2 linked regions of the Homo sapiens genome follow. The protein of the gene in region 1 interacts with the protein of each later gene in a pairwise test. Each region holds a gene or a part of one and is shown on either strand. Other genes may lie near its edges.

Region 1 (7,000 bases):
CTCAGGGTCGCAGTGTCTCTTCATGTGTCACAGACTTGTCCATGAATGTGGCAGGTTGTGAACAGTCGGTGAAGTGAGATGTCAGTGGCATCCTAGTGCTCACTTCACTCCTTTCATTTTAATGTAGGTTTGAAGTTTTTTTTTTTTCAGTATGAGGTAAAATTCTAGATCAACAAATGTATATACACAGATCCTTGAGCTTTGGTGTAAAGACACATGTCTATATGACAAAGTCTTCTTTAAAGGGGTCAGTCCAGAAAGCAAGCCTCTAGTTAAATAAGCCTGATTTAAAGAGTTTTGGGAGGGAAGTTATGTTTCTACAACTTTTATTAATAAAATATTAAACCTAAAATGTTGATTTTAGTAAAATATTAATATTTATTACTAAAATTTCATAAATATCCTATAACTAGTAAATAAAAACATTAAATATTAAACCTTAGCGCTTTGAAGTTTTTAATAATAAAAGTTGAAGTAAAATAAAAATGTGTCTCTCAAAACCTTTTTTATGAGTCTAAAGAAGACTTTGTCATGTAGGGAGATCTCCTTACAACAAAGTCCAAGAGTCTGTGTATATACATTTGTTGATCTAGAATTTTACCTCATATTAAAAAACAACAGTAATACTATCAGCTTAACATAAGCAGATCTTTTTTTTATTGTCATGGGATTTGAACTGTATATGACATCTTTGACTTTTTTTTGGTGTCTTCTATTTTTTTTTTTTAATCTCTCTCTTGACTTTATTTGGTCTTTTCTATCAAAAGCCATAGGAGCTCACTTTCTCATGAAACTGGGTAACTATAAAAGTCTTACAAAACTGACATTGTGGCAATTTATGGTTAAAGAACTTCTCATCTTCTCCTGTCCCTGCTCCTGCTTGCCTTACTCTCTCTTTTCTGTCCTTTGCTTTAGGATCTGACCGCACTGGCCAAAGAGCTTCGAGCAGTGGAAGATGTACGGCCACCTCACAAAGTAACGGACTACTCCTCATCCAGTGAGGAGTCGGGGACGACGGATGAGGAGGACGACGATGTGGAGCAGGAAGGGGCTGACGAGTCCACCTCAGGACCAGAGGACACCAGAGCAGCGTCAGTCCCCGGTCTCTTTTAGAGCGGATGAGAGTATTCTCTCAGAGCCTGCTTTCCACTGGGACCTAGTTGTTCCTAGACTATTCCGTGACCCCATGAGCACTTACTATGTAGTTCTCGTGGATTCAGCAGCAGGTCGCCTTGTGTTTCCCCTTCTCTTCGTTGGTGTGTGCATATGTCAGTGCTTCCCCCAGCACCCCAGCGTGTACTTTATTTTTTCCTTTTGATTTGAGGATATATGATCCAGGGGAAATTTCAGTTTGGTATAACTACTTTAATTAGCCATAATTATTCATTCTAAGTTTTTGCTCAGAAACAAATGGCACTGGAAAGAAATTCTTTGTTAAAGGGAGAAAGCTAAGCAGTTGCTTTTTTGGAGGAGGCTTTATATCGGTAGCCTCATCTCATGTTTTGATTTTGAGAAGGCGAAAAGCCTAAACAGGATCTCCTTGACTCCAGAGATTAAGGCCTTTCACGTCTGGATTTTTTCTCCATAGGTCATCTCTGAATTTGAGCAATGGTGAAACGGAATCTGTGAAAACCATGATTGTCCATGATGATGTAGAAAGTGAGCCGGCCATGACCCCATCCAAGGAGGGCACTCTAATCGTCCGCCAGGTACCCGTGTCTTCTCTGTTGTCAGAGGCTGAGCTTCTCCTGTGGTCATTAACCCACTTGCTCATTCACTCACTCATGCTGTTTCTCCATCATCATCTGTTTTCATGTTAACAAGTCCCAGAGGGTCAAGTGTCGAGTGTCGGGGGCTAGGGAGGCAGGTGTGTACTGCATGCCCAGAAGGTAGCGAGTAGTCTCCACCCCACATCGCTGCTCCTCTGCATGTCTGCGGCAGCCCTCATTCAAGCACCGCGCTGAGTCTCACAGTCTATGTCTGAGCGGGAGAGAAGCCACAGGGAGTCCTTAAACAGGCTCACAGAGTGAGGAAGCAGGTCTGGAGTCTGGCAGAGCAGCCACCATGGCTCTGCAGAGCACGCTGGGCTCTGAGTGTCTGCAGTGCCACAGTGGGAGCGGGTGAGGCAGGCAGGACGAGCCTCATCACAGGCCCAGAGACTCGGAGAGCAGAAGGGTTCGGGAGGTTTCTCTTCTATGTTCCAAAATGTTAGTTTTCTCACTTGTTGAATAATTAAATGTGTGCCACCCAGATATGCTCAGTTTGGATCACTAAGCTTTATAACTGTCTGTTCATTTCTTAGCTTAGACTTAATTAAAGTGATACGCTTCTCATTTAAATAGAACAGGGCACCTATTTAGTATTTTGGACTTTGCCCTAAGTGTGTTTCATGCTATGGCAATGCATTCGGATGGAAAGTAGGAAGAATGTGGAAAAGACCAGGATTCAGAGAATCCACAGGTACTTTCTGGAGCTTTGCAAAGAAAGATTTAAAAAGAAAAAAAAAAGGATACTGGTTTTGGTAACAGAAGCTAGCGCAACAGATAAACCAGATTAAACACTCACTGCTCGAGCCGTGCAGCCACCAGATTAGGTACTTTGAATTCTGTTGGCACAAGTTAGGCATTTGGTGAGGAAGTGTGAGCAGTTCAGGCTAATTTCTTTGGTTTTTCCTTGGTAATTTAGCAGAGTTTATAAGTCACACAGCACCTTAAAGCAGTTATCAATAGGGCCATAGGCAATTTTAGCAGCGCTTGAGCGAGACAAGTGTGCCTGTTTTTTCTACAGAGTACAGTTGACCAAAAGCGTGCCAGCCATCATGAGAGCAATGGCTTTGCCGGTCGCATTCACCTCTTGCCAGATCTCTTACAGCAAAGCCATTCCTCCTCCACTTCCTCCACCTCCTCCTCCCCATCCTCCAGCCAGCCGACACCCACCATGTCCCCACAGACACCCCAGGACAAGCTCACTGCTAATGAGGTATGTCTCGCACCACAGCTGGCTGCTTTCCTGGGGTTAGACCAGCACTGCCTAGGAGTTAGTTTGCAAAGGAGACCTTTCCAACACCCTCACCCCTTCCCTTCCCACCCTGCTTTCTCTGTCACCTACCCTTCTCCCCAACCCCAAGTAACATGTTTCAGATCTGCATATAAACCCCTTAACCCTAGATCAGCTCCCCCAAACTTGCCAGTTCACTGTTTACTGTTCTGTAGATAAGTATAGTTGCATGGCTTTATCTAGTTTATTTTTTAAAAATCTAAATAAAATGATTGCTCTGTCCTCAGACCGGTATTATGTATTTGGCATGAAATTCTTATAGTCATTTGTGGAATCTGCCTTTTTCATTCTTTTTATCCAATAAATAAAATATAGGAAGATTCGGTTCAGCAGGCTTGGCCTTATCTGGACAAACTTATTATCCTGTACAGGAATCTCTTTCAAACAGAACTGATTTTTTTTTTTTTTCTTGTTTGGGGGGTGGGTTGTTGGCTGATTACTCTTACTTGTTTTCACCAACCCTGTTAAGGAGTTTGTTCTTTGACATTTACAATCACTCAGAGGTTTAGAAGCCAAATTATTTTTGGGAAACCTAGAAAAAATTAGGATGTTAAGCAAGAAGGACAAAGGTTTGAGCTTGTTTTTAATTTAAAATTTTGTGTGGGAAATCTGTGTGCTCCTTTGAAGGCTTGGTTGTGGTGCTCGGTCTGGGTGTTAGCTCAGTCTGGGTGATTCTTTGCTCTTTGAACAGGGTTATACTCCAGGTGTAGTGACATAGCCCACTTGAGCACCCGTATTGAATTAAACAAGTGATTTGATTCCACAGAAGATTTGGTTTAAGTGTCTTTATCTACCAGTTGAGGGAGGTTAGAAAGAATCAGAAAAATCCTCTCCTCCGGAGGAGCAGTGGCAAGTCAACTGCTTCCTAGACAGGCTTGGCATCGGCTAGACTGGCTCCTGACTCATGGGACAGGGAGGGAAGCTGCCAGGGGACAGATGTTCAGGTGGGAAGCTTAGGGGAGGGCATGGGCTCTAGGACATGGTGACCCTCAGGTGTCCATGGAGGGGGTCCAATGGTACAGGACAAAAGCACTTGATCAGACATGTTCCTTTTTTCTCCTGAGGTATATATCCCACCTACACTCACATTCTTCCTTATATTTATATTTTAAACTTTGCTCCATTTCGCTCTAATGTGCAGTATTTTACTATAACCCTTAACTCACTAAACCGGCAAATTTATTTTTCTGTTTGTTTTGTTTTTAATTGTCATTACATTTCCACTTAACAATTTGTTTCACTTCCTTTGTGTTTTTTTGTCTTAAGTTACATTATTAACCAAAACACTAGTGCTCCTAAAAGATCAAAAAGATACGCCTTCTTTTGTCATTTGCACCTTTCACTAATGAGTCCTCATTTGGTATGGGTTTAATGGTGATGCACCTAAAACAACAGTAGCCAAAGCTTCTGTAGCTTTCTGGCAAGAGGCTCAATTTAAAATAACTACAATTATTAACAATTGCCAATATTCCAGCATAGATTATTTGGACTCTTGGGTAGGAGAATAAATTCAGAAGTTGGTGAATTGAGATCAAGACATTTCAGACCTCCTTTAGGAGTTTCATTATAAGTATTTACTTAATTTTTTTTTAAAGCTAGGCACATGAAGTCTAGATTTCATTGGTAGCTTGCAGCACTGCTTTGTAAGTGAGCAATGTCTCTGGTAGAGATACGGCTCCTGCAGTGGTTCCAGGTAAAGCTGCCCTGAGGGGTGCTATGCCACGTGGAAGCTCCCCGCAGAGCATTTTTTGGGGGAATGATGCAAGGCAAATAGAGCAAAGTATTGGGAAATAGTGCAATATAGAAGTGAATTGAAATGTGTATTTTTAATGTTCATTTTTAAAATGCCAGTTGTATTAATAACATTGAAATTTACATTGCAGACTCAGTCCGCTAGTAGCACACTCCAGAAACACAAATCTTCCTCCTCCTTTACACCTTTTATAGACCCCAGATTACTACAGATTTCTCCATCTAGCGGAACAACAGTGACATCTGTGGGTAAGTACAGTAGCAACAAGAAAGCAGCTGACAAATGGGACTTTATCTTTGAGTTGCTCTTTTGGGTGGCTTAGGTGTAGCTGGTTGTTCACAGGCACAGACCTCGGGTACAGAAACTTCCCATCCCAGTTGTATGCCTTATTTGCAATGAGATGCAGAGTCCATTTCCTTTTTCCATATACATTGCTTACAGATTTCTTCTCTTTGACAAAGTGTTGGTTATACCACATGAATATTTACTTGAAGTATACTGGGGAAGGGAGGCAGGCATAGTGTGTGTGTGTACAGAAAATAATTTCAAATATATTGTGTTTCAGTGGGATTTTCCTGTGATGGGATGAGACCAGAAGCCATAAGGCAAGATCCTACCCGGAAAGGCTCAGTGGTCAATGTGAATCCTACCAACACTAGGCCACAGAGTGACACCCCGGAGATTCGTAAATACAAGAAGAGGTTTAACTCTGAGATTCTGTGTGCTGCCTTATGGGGTAGGTGTCTAGCCACTACTCCAACACTTTCATTTTTGTTCTGAGTGGTGGCTGGTCTTCTAGAGAAGTACTGCATTGAATAGTTTGTGGATAGACAGGATGGAAGACTTCTATGATGTCCATCTCCTGTTATATGCAGAGTGGTATATTAGCAGACTGGTGTGGCACATGTATATGATTGCACTCATTTTAACTGTCAAATATTGGCATGATTAATCTCCATTTTATTTTTATTAAACAAATTTTTGTAGTAGTTTTGTTACGTGGATATATTGTATAGTGGTGAAGTCTGGGTTTTTAGTGTAACCATCAGCCCATTATACTCAATAGTGTACATTGTACCCCTGAACCCTGAGGTTGACTGTTCTCACTATAAAATTCAATCATATCTAGCAGTGGAAATGTTGGAGAAGTATATTTATAAAAACTTACTGCAACATGCAACCCAGTGTTTTTCATTTTTCATGCTTGTAATTTCCAAGTACTTTACAGTGACTATTCTTTTGACTATTAGCATTCAGTACTTTATAAAATTATACAACTGTACAATTATACAACTTGGAAATATATCATGGAGAAGTAGAAGATAGAGTGTAAGTGCCACAATACCTGCAGCTTTTGTGTTTTGAAAAGAGTCTTCAGCTTTATCTTGTTACTCCCTCATTCTTTCTCACTGTAAAATCTTGAGGTTGATGTTTATATGTTAGTTTTTAGAAACACACATAATAGGATTTCTTCACAAGGCCCATATTTTGTGTAGTTATTACCAGATTCTTGACATAGGAGTTTAAAAAAATCTACTTGATACTGAAGATTGACCAGGAAAATATCAAAATATTGTGTAAAATAGAACCTTTGAAATGGTATCTGTCTGGCAGCAGTTCTATCAATAAATATCTGTCTTTTCTACCAATAATTTCTAAGCTGTTTTAGATCAACTTGCCTAGATATATGCAGGGAAACCTAAGCATAATATTCAAATAAGTTCCACCTTGACAAGGATATAGTCAGGGCAGAATGGCCAACCTCAAGAATAAAATTATATGAAAATGAATCACATATTACATATTTAAATATTTTTCTTATACTGATAATCTTTTTAGTTGTACAGCATTTTTTTTTTTTTAATCTCTAAGGGTTAAGTCACTATGCCCACAAGCATTGCTTGGGTAGATACTGTCCTCCAAATGTTGGGATAATCCCAACTCAATCAACTCTATAAGGACCAGGCATGAACAGAGAGAGGGCTGTAGGAGCGTTGTTCTCTCAATGCCGTCACAATTATTTATTTCAGATTATCTGGAAATAGGGTGTGGGTGGGTGTGGGCATACATGTATGTGCCATGATATTCTTCCGCCTCACTCCCTCTACACAAATACTTTATTCCTTGTCTTGGTGAGTTTATGACTGAGGAAATCAGTACACACAGATATGTGCCCAATTCCCTAGGAAT
Region 2 (17,227 bases), on another chromosome or scaffold:
GTTGCTGGATAATGGTAGTTGAGCAGCCTTCCCTGGACTGAAAATAAATTGATTTACACTATTCTTACCATTTAAGTTTCAATAACTTTTTTCCTAGTGTAAATTCTTCTAACTAGAACATTACAAGAATTCTTATTACGCCTTTGCCTAGAAGGAATAACCATGGGTCTTTAGTGAGTCTTGATTAGCATTCAACTATATCTTAAACTTCCTTCATTTATTCTATTTACATTTAAAACTCAAAATTATTTCAAAGTAAAGTCAACTAAAGTTTATAATTAACTTAAATAATACAGTATATCTGTTCTCTTCAAAGTATACAACAATTTAGAGCATGGTTGCTCAATTGCCTCTATTGCAAAATTGGACTTAGAGAGTGGCAACTTACTAGAGATCTAACCAAAGTAGCTAAGATAGTTTATGAAGAATGCTTTTTCTGCATTTTAAAATATTCTTTTCTGTTTCCATTAAGTGTGCTGTAACTGTAATAGAATCATTTTTTAGATGGAGTCTCGCTCTGATACCCAGGCTGGAGTGCAGTAGCATGATCTCGACTCACTGCAACCTCTGCCTCCCAGGTTCAAGAGATTCTCATGCCTCAGCCTCCCCAGTAGCTGGGATTACAGGCAGGCACTACCATGCTCTGCTAATTTTTGCATTTTTAGTAGAGACGTGGTTTCACCACATTGGCCAGGCTAGTCTCAAAACTCCTAGCCTCCAGCCATCCGCCTGCCTCAGCCTTCCAAAGTGCTGGGATTACAGGCGTGAGCTACCACATCTGGCCTGTAGTAGAATCTTAATGGCATTTTCTAGAAAAAAGCAGTGCATGAATACAAGCAATCTTGAACTGCCTCTTACACTGAATACATTGCCTGCCTGCCTGCCATAGTGACATCCCTTTTGTGTAACATGCTGTTCTGTCTGTTGTGTTTTTGTCTGTCTGTTTTGGGAACTGCCTAGGATGGCCTTGCCCCACCCAGGTCTCCCCTGTTCAGCCCAGTTGTACCTTATGATATGTACATACTGAATGCATCCAATCCGGATACTGCATTTAATTCGAACCCTGAAGTCAAAGAAACATCTGGTGATTTCTCATCTGTGGATCTTAGCTTCCTACCAGATGAAGTTACCCAGGAAAATAAAGACCAGCCTGTCATTAGCAAACACGAAACTGAAGAAAATTCTGAAAGCCAAAGTCCACAAAGTAGGTTGCCATCACCCAGCGAACAGGACGTTGGGCTGGGCTTAAACAGCAGCAGTTTGTCAAATTCCCATTCACAGCTGCACCCTGGTGATACTGACTCAGTCCAGCCCTCTCCTGAGAAACCAAACTCCGACTCCTTGTCTCTGGCATCCATAACTCCCATGACACCAATGACCCCTATTTCAGAATGTTGTGGAATTGTACCTCAACTACAGTAAGTTTTTATTTTTGTTTTAATTGAGCACATTGGGTACACATTTTATATTCCTGAATGCGATGACAACTAATTTCAGGATAATAGTAGGGAAGAGAATTTCAGATTTCATAATTCTTTGTTTTATCAGTTCTAAATGGATTGTGGCTTTAGACAGTTTGATTATCTGTAAGGCAAAGCACTAATTCTTGACCTCTAAGGTGGGCGGAGGGGACTTAAAGATTAATAGATGCATTCTTGAAGGATTGTATTGTTTATACTACAGCACTGTAGTTGCTGAAAATTGTGGGTAGGGTTGGATAAACACCAAGGATATAAAGATGTAAAATTGAGTTTGATTTGCAAATTGATTCAGAATTGTAATTTCTATTTTGAGGCATTGTTTTGAAAAAAGATCTAAAACTTAATTTTAGCAGCTAGTCATGAAATTTTAGGAAAGGCTCTTTAGCACTTCACTTTGGGATTTTACACTTAACTAGGAATCATGTCATGTATTTCACATTTGGAATAATTCTCCCCCTAGGAAATTGCTAAGGTATAACCTAAGAAATGAGAAAATAAGTTGTCTTTTTTTTTTTTTACTCTTTATATCTGATATAAGTTTCTAAACTGACTTATTTCTTCAGGAATATAGTTTCCACTGTAAACCTGGCCTGTAAGTTGGATCTGAAGAAAATAGCTTTGCATGCAAAAAATGCAGAATATAACCCAAAGGTAACATTTCTCAGTATTCCTTCCAATAATTAGCTTCTCTTTAGATTTACTTTTCTTAATATGATCATGATATTGACTAATTCCTCTGTTTTTTCTTAAAAAATTGTTACTGAAAAAGCTTTTGGCAACTCAGGGTTAATATCTGTTTTGAGTTATAAAAAATAATCTCATTCTTTATGCTGAATAAAGCAGTAATTGAGCAGTTCCTTAAAGATAAGCTCTCTCCCTTGTCATTCAAAAATATTTTTTAGTATGATTATAATTTTTCACTTAGGCTGGGCACGGTGGCTCACTCCTGTAATCCCAGCACTTTGGGAGGCTGAGGCAGGTGGATCACGAGGTCAGGAGTTTGAGACCAGCCTGACCAACATGGTGAAATCCCGTCTCTACTAAAAATACAAAAATTAGCTGGATGTTGTGGCGGGTGCCTGTAATCCCAGCTACTCAGGAGGTTGAGGCAGGAGAATCACTTGAACCCAGGAGGCAGAGGTTGCAGTGAGCCAAGATCATGCCATTACATTCCAGCCTGGGTAACAGCGAGACTCCGTCTCCAAAAAAAAAAAAAAAATTTCACCTGACTATTGGGATGCTAACTATCTTAAAATGCCATCAAATTTCTGGAAATAATTTTTGCCAAATGTTGTCTCAGCTACCTGACACTTATGTATCTTTCCATTACAATTCCTCTTATCTGAGAAGGCTAAACTGCTTAAAGTATAAAGTTCAAGCTCCTATTTACTAATGTAAGATTCAGGGATTTTTTTTTTCGTCCTCCTCAAAGTTTAATAAAATCTATTCTTTCTTGTATCCTGCCAAGGCCAGGCATCCTGTTTTCAATGGCTTGTTTACCTAGGGTAATTGGGTTTGTCAATCCTATCAACTTTTAACGATTTGCCAGGCTCTGTACTTAGGAGTACAAAGATGAGTAAGACCTGCTTCCTACTGGGAAAAAGTTCACTGGCTTAGGTGGTGGAGGATTTATGGAATTAGATGAAAAAAGGTCACATTCGTAGGAACCCAGAGACCTTGCAGGCATCAACTATTATTTGTTTTTGCTGTTGCCCTAGTATTGTTGCTGACATCTGAATTTAAATGTTACCTCGATGTTACCCGAATACAATAAAGCTTTCCTTTTGATATTTCATACAGCTGACAATGGTGAGGACAGACACAAAGATGAGCTAAGATCCTCACAGCTGCAGCTGTGATCACATTATTGAACAATCAGCATTTTAGGCAACTTTTATTGTCCACCATCCTCAGCACACCTCTCATTTTGGACGAGGGGTAGGGGTGGGCAGGGCTGGGGATGAGTGTATAGGATCTCTCTGAACTTGTGCTTGACACCCAGAGAAATTCTGGCTTGGCCCTTAAGCTAGCACCCACCCCAGTTTCCTTCCTAGCTTAACCGGGGAGAGGAGTTGGGGTGAAGAGACTATCTGTGTAGGAGCAGGCCATTTGATGACACGTCCATGTGGCAGGCCAGAGGTTCCCTACCCTCACGAGTGTCAGCCTCACCTGCAGGGCTTGCTGATGCTGCTGGTCTTGAATGACACTTTGAGAACTATAAGAGGCAAGAACCTTGACATCAACTTTCTGTCATTCATCTTTAGCATGCCTATCATACAGACTCTTCTGCATTTTGGTCATTTTTCAGTACATTCTGAAGTCTTGGTGAGCCTTTAACATACTTATTTTTTTCCCAAAAGATTCTTCAAAAGAAAAAGGAAGTGTGTCAAAGTAAAAAGCAGAGAATCTGATTAGTGTGGGTTTTGAATCTTAACTTTACCACTTCCTGTGTAATATTGGAGGTTATATTGCTACTTGTTTTCCCTGAGCACTAAATGAGGATAATAAACACAAGTTCATCCTATCATGAGAATAAATAGGAACTGAAACATAACAGGCATTCAAATTTAAGAGTTACTGATATTATTTTTACCTGTTAATAAGTACATTTTAGAATCATCATTATTTTTGTTAACCTTAATGTAGGGAGAAAAGACCCAGACATTTAGTTTTCCCATCCAATCTGTTTGAGATTTTCATATTCAGCTCGGCTTTTTCAACTGGGATAATGTTAACTCCTAGCAGAGGCTAATTCTCTTTTGGTTTCTGGGTATAGAGGTTTGCTGCTGTCATAATGAGGATCCGAGAGCCCAGGACAACAGCCCTTATATTTAGCTCTGGGAAGATGGTCTGCACGGGAGCCAAAAGGTATGAGGAATCATCCCTCCACCCCTACCAGAGAAACAATTTAGTATGTAAAACAAGGAAGCATAGAATTAATGTGCTAAAGCACATAGTAGAAGCAAAATGCCTTTCTTTGCTGAAGACTTTATTCAATGAAATGCCACATTTTGGGTTAAAAACACTCCTATAAATACTGACTTGGGCCAGGCATGGTGGCTCACATCTGTAATCCCAGCACTTTGGGAGGCCTAAGCAGGAGGATCGCTTGAGCCCAGGAGTTTGAGACCAGCCTGGGCAACACAGTGAGACTCCATCTCTGTTAAAAAAAAAAAAAAAAAAAAAAAGAGAAATCTAAAAAGTAGCTGGATGTGGTGGTGCATGCCTCTAGTCCTAGCTACTTGGGAAGCTGAGGTGGGAGGATCACCTGAGCCCATGAGTTTGAGGCTGCAATGAGCTATGATCATACCACTGCAGTCCAGTCTGAGTTACAGAGCAAGACCCTGTCTCTATTAAAAAAAATAATAAAATACTGACATATCCCCATTTTACAGTTTCCCCTATTAAACCGAGGGGACTTAACTGCGCTGCTACAACTTGTTTCTAAGGTGAATTTTTTTTAAGTTACAGTAATGATGAAGTGTGTTATAAGTCTGGGGAAGTAGTTATTGTGGATTTTCCTCATTGCAGATAAATGGATAGAACTTTCTAAAGGAGCTCAATTAGACATTCCTTGAGCATTAGCTTGCATTAGCTCAGGAGGCATCCCTTAAAAATCTCATCTCTCCTGGATCTCACGCAGAGGAAGCCCTGTGTTGATGGGTATTCTTTCACCATAACTCTGTAGTGGCAGAGCCTGTTTTCTCCTGTAGGTGTTAAAAGATAAGAAGCAAATTCTCCTCCTGAAAAGTTGTGCCAATTTCTCGCTCTATAAATGTACTAAGTGTTCATTTTATCCTGTGGACACTGGGTGTCGATATTCTTTTTATATTTGCTAAATTGATTGACAAAAAGTTACATTGTTTTACATTTCTTTGATTTACTAGTGAGATTAAATAACTTTTTAGAAGTGCAGAAATTGCTATGTCATTTGCTCAGTTATCTATGGAGAGATTTATCTTTTGTTTTTGTTTTGTTAACTATTTTCACCATTTTATACTGTAAATATTTTTTCTCAGATTACTGTTTATGGTATTTTATGGTGTTTTTTTTGTTGTTTGTTTATTTGTTGTTTTTTTTTTTCTGAGACACGGTCTCACTGTGTTATCCAGGATGGAGTGCAGTGGTGTGATCTGGGCTCACTGCAACCTCCACCTCCCGGGCTGGAGCCATCCTTCCAGCTCGGCCTCTTAAGTAGCTGGGACCACAGGTATGCACCACCAGGCCTGGCTAATTTTTTTTTTTTTTTTTTGTAGAGACGGGGGTTTCCCCATATTGCCCAGGCTGGTCTCGAACTCCTGGGCTCAAGTAGTCCTCCCACCTTGGTCTCCCAAAGTGCTGGGATTACAGGCGTGAGCTACTACATCTGGCCTATGGTGGGTTTTTTAAAAAACACAAATTTTGAAGGGTATACTCATTTTATCCCATTTTTTTCTTTGTTTTCTACATTTGGCTTTGCCCTTAAGGCATTTGTGCACAGTATTATACAAATATTGACTTTCATATATTTTTTGGTCTTTTTCAGGTCCTGCTTTGTGATAGGAAAAGGATAGCTGGTATTTTGATTCACTTAGAGCTTTCTCTAGATGGAAATGTTCTATATCTGCACTGTTTAATGCAATGATATAGCCACTAGTCAGATGTGGCTACTGAGCACTTGAAATACAGCTAATACAACTGAGGGACTGAATTTATATTAATTGGACAGAGCAGATCTAGAATTTTGTTTCAATGTAAGATAATTATTTTTCCCAAATGATCAGTCGGTACTCAGATACATTTATTGAAGGATCCATTGTTACTACATTTCCCCCAATCTGTTTTTACATATTAAGTTCTTCACATGTGTCTGAGTACATTGCTGGACTTTCTCTTATGTTGATCCCAGGAATCTCCATTTTAAAGTGATTATTGGACAGTTGTGCAAGATGTCTGTAATAATGTTCATTTCAGCAATAGAACAGGGAAAACCTAATTAATAATAGGGTTTCAATTTGAAGTCATAAAGTAAAATTGTATTAGCCATATAGTACACATACTGAGCTGAAAGGATGGTCACATTGTATTAAGTTGGATTGCAGAGGGAGAAGTAAGCAGCTAAATGGTGTTTGTTATCCAACTTTCATTGTAAAATATGCTCATGTTACACATATTACACACATTCATGAGTGTCTTTTCTTATCTGAATTTATTCCTAAAATCTGATAGTGAAAGTTTGGATAATGAGTTCAGATAATAAGAGATACTTTTTATCCAAATATATTTGGTTTTGAAGTTTTGGATAGTGAGTTGTGAGAATTTAGTTAATAAGAGGTGCCAGTATTATCTCCACATTTTATCCAAACCTATTCTCTTTTGTTGTAACAGCAAGAGTATGAGGGATACCTGTGTTTGCGTAGGAAAAGTGCAGAAGATCAAATTTAGGTAGTTAACACCAGTATGGGTGAGATTTTAAGATTTTTAAACTACTTTCTAATGTTTGTACAATGAACATGTATATAGACTTTCAACTATTAGTTGTTTCAATAGAAACTTCTGTGTCCTTAGAATATCACAGCTGATATCCCAAGAAACTACAGGACTATGCAAACTTGAACAAATTTGAACTTATTTACATTACGGGAAATGTAATAGATTAGTTAGGCAAAATGTAGTTCAAAATGGAAACAGTTTATTTTACTGCTAACCTGGGGACATGGCCTTGCTAAGGACATTTCAAGAGTGAGAAGTGGGTGAAGAGAGCCAAGGGCAGTGCTGTGCAGCTGTAGTCAATCTAGTGAGTAGATACCAGATCAACAGATGGCCATGTGCAGTGGCTCACACCTGTAACCTCAGTACTTGGGGAGGCTGAGGTTGGGAGGGTCACTTGAGTCCTGGAGTTTGAGCCCAGCCTGGGCAAGACAGCAAGACCCTGTCTCTATAAAAATTTAGGCAGGTGTGGTGGTGCATGCCCCTGCAGGCTACTTAGGAGGCTGAGGCAGGAGGATCACTTAAGGCCAGAAGTTCAAGGCTGCAGTGAGCTATGATCATGCCACTGCACTCCAGCCTGGGTAACAGAGCAAAAACCCAATCTCTTTTTTTTTTTTTTTTTTTTTTTTTAAAGTGGGTGAGGAGAATCAACATTAAATGAGGTGACACATGTATGTAGTAACGAATACCCAAGAGGGGGCAGTGTTGGTGAAGGATCTGGATAAGAGAATCAAACACTTGCTTTAGTCCAGGCAAACAAGTTCAAACTGGCTTTTCTTTCAGGTGTTTCTGATTTACAGCCTAAAAATAGGGCCAAACCCATGAGGGGGGTGGAATTCACCTGATTCACCCTGCAGGTGTTGCTACCTACTGTTTTGTTTTGTCACTAACAGTTGAAAAATACCTAAGGAGAAATGAAGCCTCACCTCTCAGGACTCCACAGGCTCTGCTATGAATTTAGGGGTGCAGCAGGACAGACACTTAAAGGACATAGCCACAGAGTAGGACAAATTCCTGTCCTTCTTGTGTTGAGTTTGAATTGAATTGAAGATTGGGTGAGAAAGCCGAGCAAAACAAGGGGGGTTTTGAGGTATTTTCATGTGGTTGTTTTGGACAGTGTGTCCAATAAAGACTCAAGAACTGATACCTTGTCTGTGCCACTCAATCAGCACATATCTTACCTCCTTATATGCGATTTTTTTTTGTATGCATGTGTCCTTATTTTTTCTTGTTGTTTTCTTTTTTTTTTTTTTTTTTTTTTTGAGACGGAGTTTCACTCTTGTTGCCTAGGCTGGAGTGCAATGGCGCGATCTCAGCTCACTGCAACCTCTGCCTCCCAGGTTCAAGTGATTCTCCTGCCTCAGCCTCCTGAGTAGCTGGGATTACAGGTGCCCGCCACCATGTCCAGCTAATTTTTTTGTATTTTTAGTAGAGACAGCGTTTCATCATGTTGGCCAGGCCGGTCTCGAGCTACTGTCCTCAGGTGAGCTGCCTGCCTCAGCCTCCCAAAGTGCTGGGATTACAGGCGTGAGCCACTGTGCCCAGCCATTGTTCTCTTCTAAATGGGACATACTTTGAGACTGGATGAATGGTTCCCAAACTGCAGTGAGCAGCACAGTTACCTAGAGGGCTTGTTAAAAGACAGATTGCTCGGCCCCACCCCCAGAGTTTCTGCATGTCTGAGGTGGAACCTGGGACTTTGCATTTCTAACAAGTTCCCAGGTGAAGCTGCTGGTCTGGGGACACACTTTGCGAATCCTTGGAATCGTTTTAGCAAATAACACCCAAGTAAAAGTAAAAGTACTTCATATATGAAAGGTGACAAATGAAGACAAAAATTTATGATTCTGTTCAACAGCTGTACAATTTTACAAGACCTTTTATAAGGTGCTAGGGACGAAAGTATGGGAAGTAAGTCCTCCTCACAAAGCCTACAGCTTCATAGTATACATTGAAAGATAAACGTGGTACAAATGGTAACAATCCAATACAACACCAGTAGTTGAGAGGATGTAGCGATTAAGACATCTTTAAACATATTTGCCCCTCCCCAGTGAAGAGCAGTCTCGACTTGCAGCAAGAAAATATGCTCGTGTGGTGCAGAAGCTTGGGTTCCCTGCCAGATTCCTCGATTTTAAAATTCAGAACATGGTTGGAAGCTGTGATGTGAGATTTCCCATCAGGCTGGAAGGTTTGGTGCTAACCCATCAGCAGTTCAGTAGGTATGACGGTTATATAGCTTGAACTTTGAATTTACCAAGATATTTAAGTTACATTATGGGTTGCTTACGTAAAGTATCTTTCAGAGAAATTGTGATTAAAAAAAAAAAGGCGGGGGACACAATAGTGAAAAGATTAAGATGCTATGCCTGAGTTCTCATAGGTTACCACATGTGCCCAGTCTTTTGAAACCATGGTTCTTAAACTTACATTGCTTAGCAATCACTTAGCTTATTAAAGCACACATCTCTGGCTGGGTTTCTTCACCAGAGATTTTGCTAGAATTTGTGTTTCTAAAAAGCTCAAAGGTGATGACAGTGCTACTGGTCAGAGGCCCACACATTGAGATCCAGTAATCTACAGATTTGTAAGCATACAAACGTAGCTTGGCAATGACACTGGCAAGATAAGGCATGTGTTGGGAGGCCGAGGCAGGCGGATCACGAGGTCAGGAGATCGAGACCATCCTGGCTAACACGGTGAAACCCTGTCTCTACTAAAAATACAAAAAATTAGCCGGGCGTGGCAGCGGGCGCCTGTAGTCCCAGCTACTCGGGAGGCTGAGGCAGAAGAATGGCCAGAACCCAGGAGGTGGAGCTTGCAGTGAGCCGACCTCGCGCCACTGGACTCCAGCCTGGGCGACAGAGCGAGACTCCGTCTCAAAAAAAAAAAAAAAAAAAAAAAAAAAAGATAAGGCATGTGAAATGGACTAGGCCGGTAGGAAGGGGCTTGACAGCTGGTGAGGGGAGAATGGATTGGGGAGAAGATGAAAAAAGAATGCTGTAGCACGTTCTATGAAAGCAATCCTGGGAGGCTGAGGCAGGAGAATGGCGTGAACCCGGGAGACGGAGCTTGCAGTGAGAGATCGCGCCACTGCACTCCAGCCCGGGCCACAGCCAGACTCCGTCTCAAAAAAAAAAAAAAAAAAGCAATCCTAACTAGTTTGTCCCCTATCTGTGTGTGTGTGTGTGTGTGTATATAGCTGCAGCCCGCAACACAATGTTGCCTGTAGTATATTCCTTTTCCTAGGGAATATCTCTAGCCTTCCTGACTTCAGACTTCCCGTCTCAACAGCTAGTGCTCCTCCCCCGCCCCCAGCCGTTTTGGTGGCTCTCCCATCCCAGGCCCTCAGAGAGCAGGGATGGAGGGTGACTCATGGACACCAAACCCCTTGACTCACCAAGATATACACCTGGGCTAGGGCACTTGGCCTGGGTTAATCACAGATGCTCTTAAATTCTCTTGGCCAAGCTGGAACTGAAGTTCTTTCATTCCAACGCCTTATCTTCTCTTGGCCATCGAATGATTATCCCGTCAATAGAGTAGATAGGGATCATATTGCTGTGCTTTCCCTAACATTTGTTAGCTTTCCTTTCAGATATGATCTGAATGGAAGTTAAAAATTCCTTTTTCTTCTAAAATATTTTCATTCATTCTGAGATTCAGCTTTTATGATATGCTTATTTTTCTTTTGACATGTTTATTTTTCTCTTGATTATGTTTTCTTTTTTCTTCAGTTTTTTCACTGTATGCTATTGAATGCCTAAATATACCCCATTTTTTAAAAATCTGAGCTCCCTATAAAGTCCTCCCATTCCCCCATGTAAGACATGTTGCCTCTTTAGGTATCTTTCTTCCTTCAATCTTGGCATAATTTGCAGATTTCCTAATAAAGCCTGTTTCTAAGAGTCTCCCAGTGCTTAAGTTGTCTTATCTTCCAGACTCTCAAGTCACGAGCCTCCAGCCTATCTTTCTCTGAATCGGCTTAGTGTACATCTGCAAGAGCTCTGCCCGAACTCTAAGGTTGTGTCTACATTAGACTTAGCATTCCCTTCTGGCCATTCAGGGCTCGAAAATGATGTGTGTGGTTCTTCCCAAGTGTCCATTCATTTCTTTTTCACCAGCATCTTCCTTGCAGAGCAGATCTAAGTCTAGAATAGGTGCCCCTTGTTATTACTACCAGCTTCTGGAAGGGTTGCCAGTAAGGCGCAGTGAGAATACATCAGACGGAGTGGGCCCATCCCTGTTCTATCTTCCTCCTGGGACAGTTTTATGATCTCAGTCATCTTTTCTTTTCTTTTCTTTTTTTTTTTTTAATCTGGCCAGGAAGCTTGCTTTGTATTCCCACAACTTTCTATTTCTAGTCTCATTCTTGCCTCCCCCTCATCCTCTCCATTCGGCTGTCAGCCTCAGGTTATGGATTACAACTCCAGAGTGTGTATTCTTGACACTGGGAACATTAAAAACACCTCTTAGAAGATTTGAATTTTTAACATGAGGCCTCTCTAATTGTCTGTAGCTCTGTGGGGAACCATGCTACATAATCAGTTATAATTATCAGGCCAAATTTGCCTTGTGTTAAACCCCTAAGGTCATTCAGTTTCCCAGGTTCTGCAAATTTGTATGTCAACATTTAATAATACAAGTATCTCCTTTTGTTACCAGGCACTTTCTCTGGTAATCTTTCTATGACATAATCATTTCCACAGTTGTCAATGAGAATTTTTCCCTCTTTATTTTATTTATTTATTTTTTTTTTTTGAGATGGAGTTTTGCTCTTTTGCCCAGGCTGGAGTGAAGTGGCATGATTTCAGCTCACTGCAACCTCCACCCCCCAGGGTTCAAGTGATTCTCCTGCCTCAGCCTCCTGAGTAGCTGGTATTATAGGCACCCACCACCACACCCGGCTAATTTTTGTATTTTTAGTAGAGACGAGGTTTTACCATATTGGCCAGGCTGGTCTTGAACTCCTGACCTCAGGCGATCCACCCACCTCGACTTCCCAAGTACTAGGATTACAGGTGTGAGCCACCGCACCCGGCCCCCTCTTTAATTTTTAATTCAAAGGTATCCTGATATAAATACTTGCTATATGAATAAGATCTAGGTGACTACCATGTAGCAGATGCTAGGATGATAATGGCAAGCAATATAGCTATAGTCCCTTGCCCACATAGAGATCACTGTCTAAAAGAAAAGATGGACAAGTCAATGACAGTAATGAAACATGGTGACTGTGAAGGTAAGGCCCTTCAGGGGCTATGAGACCATAAAGCAGGGTCTTTAATGTAATTGGGGGTGGGTAGAGATCAAGGAAGATTTTCTTGGGGAAGTAACATTTAAAATGAGACTTGAAGGATGGGTCAAAGTTGGGTTGGCCAAGAAATTGGCAGGTGTTCGATATTCTCAATCTTTGTGAAATGTTCTCCATCCCTAACCAAAACCACTCTCTTTCTCTGCCTCAGCCTTCTTTTGGAATGAGGCAGAGAATAAATAAAATGAAGTATATTCCTAATTGGGAGCACATTATACTGGTAATCTTAAAACCATGGTTCTAAAAGCTAAATGCAGTTCAATATCATTTACATACCAAAGTTTTTGTTTTCTCTTTTCTAAGTCTTAAAATTTAGCTGGAAGATCAAATGGAAATCTTCTTTTTGTGTCTCCAGCCTTCATTTTCTTGGCCTGGATCTCATAGCCCTGGAGGGTTTTTCAGGGCTCCCCCTAGTGTCATGGTCTCCCCAGTGTTGGGAAGTGGTTAGTGGGAGAAAGTCTTGACAGGCTCCCTGCAGTAAGACAGAGTGATGTTCCAGAAGACAGTTCCACCCACAATGACCTCCTATACTTGAGATGGGCAAGACTCACTTCAAGATGCGCCTTTCTGGAGCCAGTAAAAGGTTCCACATCTGCTGTTGTTTTTGGGTCTTGTTCATTGCTGAACTGAATGGAGCTTTTCCATGCAGTCTGGATTCACCCTTTAAGTGCAAAGATGCTAGTGTTCCATTGCTTGGATGTCTTTTTTTCTTATATTTCTTGTCCATTAGCCACTGCTTTGAGAATAGTTTTATTCACCTCCTCTCACTTCCTGACTTCTTTTTGGTAGGTTCCTCAAGCCTTTCTAAGAATCTGCCCTCCTCTCCAGGCTGGAGTGTGGAGAAGAAGCTCTTAAGTGCTATCATCTTTCGCTCCATGGAGTGGCCAGCTTATATTTAGTAGTAAATATGAGTTACTATTTATAGCAACAAATCCTGAATTGTAAAAACTCGGGATAATTGGATTTTCTTTATTTATATAGCACCTGTTCAAATACAAATAGCAGTGGCCTAGAAATATTTTTAGGTTCTATCTGCTAAAAATGTTAACTTCAGCAGTTCGTAAAAGCATACAAAATATGTTTATTATTGGAGAATTTGGAAACCCAGAAAAACATGATTATGTATTCTTATTAACAGACTTTTTTGAAAAGATAGAGGATGTTTAACCAACAAGCTCTCAATACACTAAATCAGATGCCCTAAGTTACCTTGATTTCTAATAACCATCCAGGATAGCTTGCACTTGTGTTATGACCCAAAATTAATTATGTTCCTAACTTCCATAAGATATTACCTAGGACACTCAAGACTCTTCATCAAGATAGTTAAAAAGTTTTTGATAAAATAGCTAACTTATTTACAACTGCTTTAATATGCACTTTAATATACTGGGCCTTACATGTTATGGGAAAGGAGCTGAATAGTGCTATTTTTAACATTTTCCTTTTACATCTTAACAGTTACGAGCCTGAACTGTTTCCTGGTCTTATTTATAGAATGGTAAAACCACGAATTGTGTTGCTTATCTTTGTATCTGGAAAAGTTGTGTTGACAGGTAAGTGCTAAGATTATTTTCTGACTCATAAAATGTAATTGCTATGCATGTGCTTTGCTTATTCTTTTAAATACCTTTGTTCACCATGGTAAAGTAATTCTTGTTATACAGAATACCTGGAATGAAAAATAAGAAAGGAATAACATCACCCATAGGTCCCAGTACCTAAAACAACATTTTTTTCATGTTTTTATGTCATTTTATTAAGTATTTCATCTTTACATCCTGATTTTTTTACAGAATTATCCATGATAACATATATGGCTTAAACTTACTGTTACAAACTCTTCATAAAGGCTTTTAATGGCCACACAAGGTCCTAACACAGGGGTTAACAAACTCTTTTCTGGAAAGGGCCAAATACTAAATATTTTAAGCTTTGTGAGCCACAGGGTCTGTCACAATTACTGAGCACTGCCATCGTAGTGTGAAAGCAGCTCTGAATGTTACATTATATAAAGGAATGGGCTCTGAAATGTGAATTTCATATCGTGACATAATTTATGTGTGTTATGTAATATTTTTTCCCCAACTGCTGAAAAAGATAAAAACCATTCTTAGCTCATAGGCTAACAAAATCAGGCAGCAGGATGGCTTTAGCCAGCAGACCTACCTTTGCTGAACCCATTCTAACATGTTATTGAATCAAACGTATTGTCCCATTGCTAGATAGGTAAATGTTCCTTCTTTGTTTGCTACTTATGAAGGGCAGACATTTGGCTGCTTTTACCTGTAGACAATTATGATATTAGTGTGGACACTCAGAAATGGGACTTTCGTTTAAGGCTATGTCCATTTTGTTCTTAGAACAAATCGCCCAATTGTTTTAAAGGGATATATGACATAGTTCTGTATCACATGGTCTTAAATGCAATGTATCTAAATATCTTTTACCAAATGCTTGGCAGCATTCCAAACAAAATGGTACCAAAGAAAACTTTAACTGTATATGTAAAAATTATCTCACTACTTTAACCCCACCGGTAATCAGAGACAGAAATCGACCATTTTTCAACACATCCAATAAATAGCATTTTGTCTCTTGTAAATAATATGTACATGACATAACTTATCCTTTTGTCTACTTAGCTTGTATTTTCTCGGGATTTGAGTTTACTATAATACTATTAAAGACAAATTATTCTTTGCTATATTTGTTATTTTTTCCTGTTGGCTTTTTTTTAAATAATTTTTGCATAAATAGCACTTTTTAAAACTACTTGAGGGAATGGTTCAGACTCTTTTCTATGTCATTCTACAGAAGGTTGCTATATATATTGTTGTTTGTTTGTTTGTTTTTGTTTTTGAGACAGAGTCTCACTCTGTTGCCCAGGCTGGACTATGGCGGCGCGATCTCAGCTCACTGCAACCTCCACCTCCAGCGTTCAAGTGATTCTCCTGCCTCGGCCTCCTGAGTAGCTGAGACTACAGGCACATGCCACCATGCCCAGCTAATGTTTTGTATTTTTCGAAGAGATGGGGTTTTGCCAAATTGGCTAGGCTGGTCTCGAACCTCTGGCCTCAAGTGATCTACCTGCCTTGGCCTCTCAAAGTGCTGGGACTACAGGTGTGAGCCACTGTGCCCCACCTACAGAAAGTTGCTATTTTATGACCGGGCGCGGTGGCTCACGCCTGTAATCCTAGCACTTCGGGAGGCCGAGGCAGGCGAATTATGAGGTCAGGAGTTCAAGATGAGCCTGGCCAACATGGTGAAACCCTGTCTCTACTAAAAATACAAAAAAAAAATTAGCTGGGCATAGTGGCAAGCGCCTGTAATCCCAGCTACTCAGGAGGCTGAGGCAGGAGAATCGCTTGAACCTAGGAGGTGGAGGTTGCAGTGAGCTGAGATCGCGTAGTCTACTTTTGTCTTTTTATACATTTCACTCTCCTCTACCATAATGAATGCCAAGTTTATGTGGCCTGAGCCAAACTGATCTCCATGCCCCAGTCCCAAATAGCTAGCCAACCAACTTAACGCTACATATCTTCTCATTAATTTTGGATGACTCCTTTTGACCTTTCTTTTACATATGTGGCTGTTCTTCGGTTCTGCCTTTGCTCTAGGTTTATCCTATTATAATCCTATTGCCTTTATCTTATTGTAGCTTTAATACTCATGGTATATCTAATAAGGCCAATTTCCCCTCATTACTTTAATTTTTATATTTCTTAGCCTCTCTTAAATGTATATTCCTCCAAACTAGAATTTTATAAAATCTTGCCTCATCTAAAAAAATTGAGACTTTTATATTACCTGAATTCAGAAAAGTTGATTAAGTCATAACTCAGCATCCAGCAAAATGACATGTCTGTTTTAAGTGTTCTTTTATAACTCTGAGTTGTATAGTTTGCTTTTCTTTAAGAAATAATTAATGTGTCTTCAAAGAGGGGAAAGTTTCTGGGTATGGTGGCTCACGCCTGTAATCCCAGCACTTTGGGAAATTGAGGCAAGCAGATCACATGAGGCCAGGAATTCAAGACCAGCCTTGCCAACATGGTGAAACCCCATCTCTACTGAAAATACAAAATTAGCTGGGCATGGTGGCAGGCACCTGTGACCCCAGCTACTTGGGAGGCTGAGGCAGGAGAATCACTTGAACCTGGGAGGCAGAGGCTGCAGTGAGCCAAGTTCGCGCCACTGCACTCCAGCCTGGGTGACAGAGTGAGACTTCATCTTAATTAAAAAATTAAAAACAAAGTGGGGAAAGCTTGTTTGGAATCCAAGAACGTTTTGAATGCAGCAAAACTACAATTCCTCAGATGGCACTAATTTAGAGTCTGGAGTAATTAAGACCCCCTAGTGACTGACATAAAGTTTACCTCTACATGTCCTAGAGGAAGTGAGAAAAGCCTGCCAATAAAATTGAATAGTGTAGATATCAGAGGCAAATACATACCCTACTTAGGGAAACACACTTTCAAGTCCTTTGGAAGGAAACTTTCATAAGTGCCATGTATCATTACAAATAAATCTTATTAAAAGTGCAAATTGCCAAATACAGGCAAAGTTCCTATTATAGATTTCTTTAAATGCCCTTAATTCAGATCAGCTTTCCCACCTACCCCAAATTTCTTTTTTCTTTTTTTTTTTTTTTTTTGAGACAGATTCTCACTCTTTTGCCCAGGCTGCAGTGCAGTGGTGCGATCTCGGCTCACTGCAACCTCCGCCTCCCGGGTTCACGCCATTCTCCTGCCTCAGCCTCCCCAGTAGCTGGGACTACAGGCACCTGCCACTATGCCCAGCTAATTTTTTTTGTATTTTTAGTAGAGACGGGGTTTCACCGTGTTGGCCAGGATGGTCTCGATCTCCTGACCTCGTGATCCACCCGCCTCGGCCACCCAAAGTGCTGGGATTACAGGAGTGAGCCACCGCACCCAACCCCCAAATTTCTTTTAAAAAGCTTTCA

Evidence for each region.
Region 2: the proteins of MAP4K4 (region 1) and TBPL2 interact in a two-hybrid assay, tested with the Homo sapiens proteins (one study listed by BioGRID).

Annotation. Positions count from the first base shown.
Region 1 is NC_000002.12:101,868,707-101,875,706, forward strand, and holds part of MAP4K4 (mitogen-activated protein kinase kinase kinase kinase 4), read left to right. Parts: intron 1-915; coding exon 916-1,091; intron 1,092-1,588; coding exon 1,589-1,709; intron 1,710-2,787; coding exon 2,788-2,979; intron 2,980-4,940; coding exon 4,941-5,058; intron 5,059-5,375; coding exon 5,376-5,546; intron 5,547-7,000.
Region 2 is NC_000014.9:55,420,752-55,437,978, reverse strand, and holds part of TBPL2 (TATA box-binding protein-like 2), read left to right. Parts: exon of another isoform or gene 1-37; intron 38-960; coding exon 961-1,418; intron 1,419-2,044; coding exon 2,045-2,132; intron 2,133-4,257; coding exon 4,258-4,349; intron 4,350-9,004; coding exon 9,005-9,172; intron 9,173-13,725; coding exon 13,726-13,820; intron 13,821-13,894; exon of another isoform or gene 13,895-13,936; intron 13,937-17,227. UniProt on the Homo sapiens protein: Transcription factor required in complex with TAF3 for the differentiation of myoblasts into myocytes. The complex replaces TFIID at specific promoters at an early stage in the differentiation process.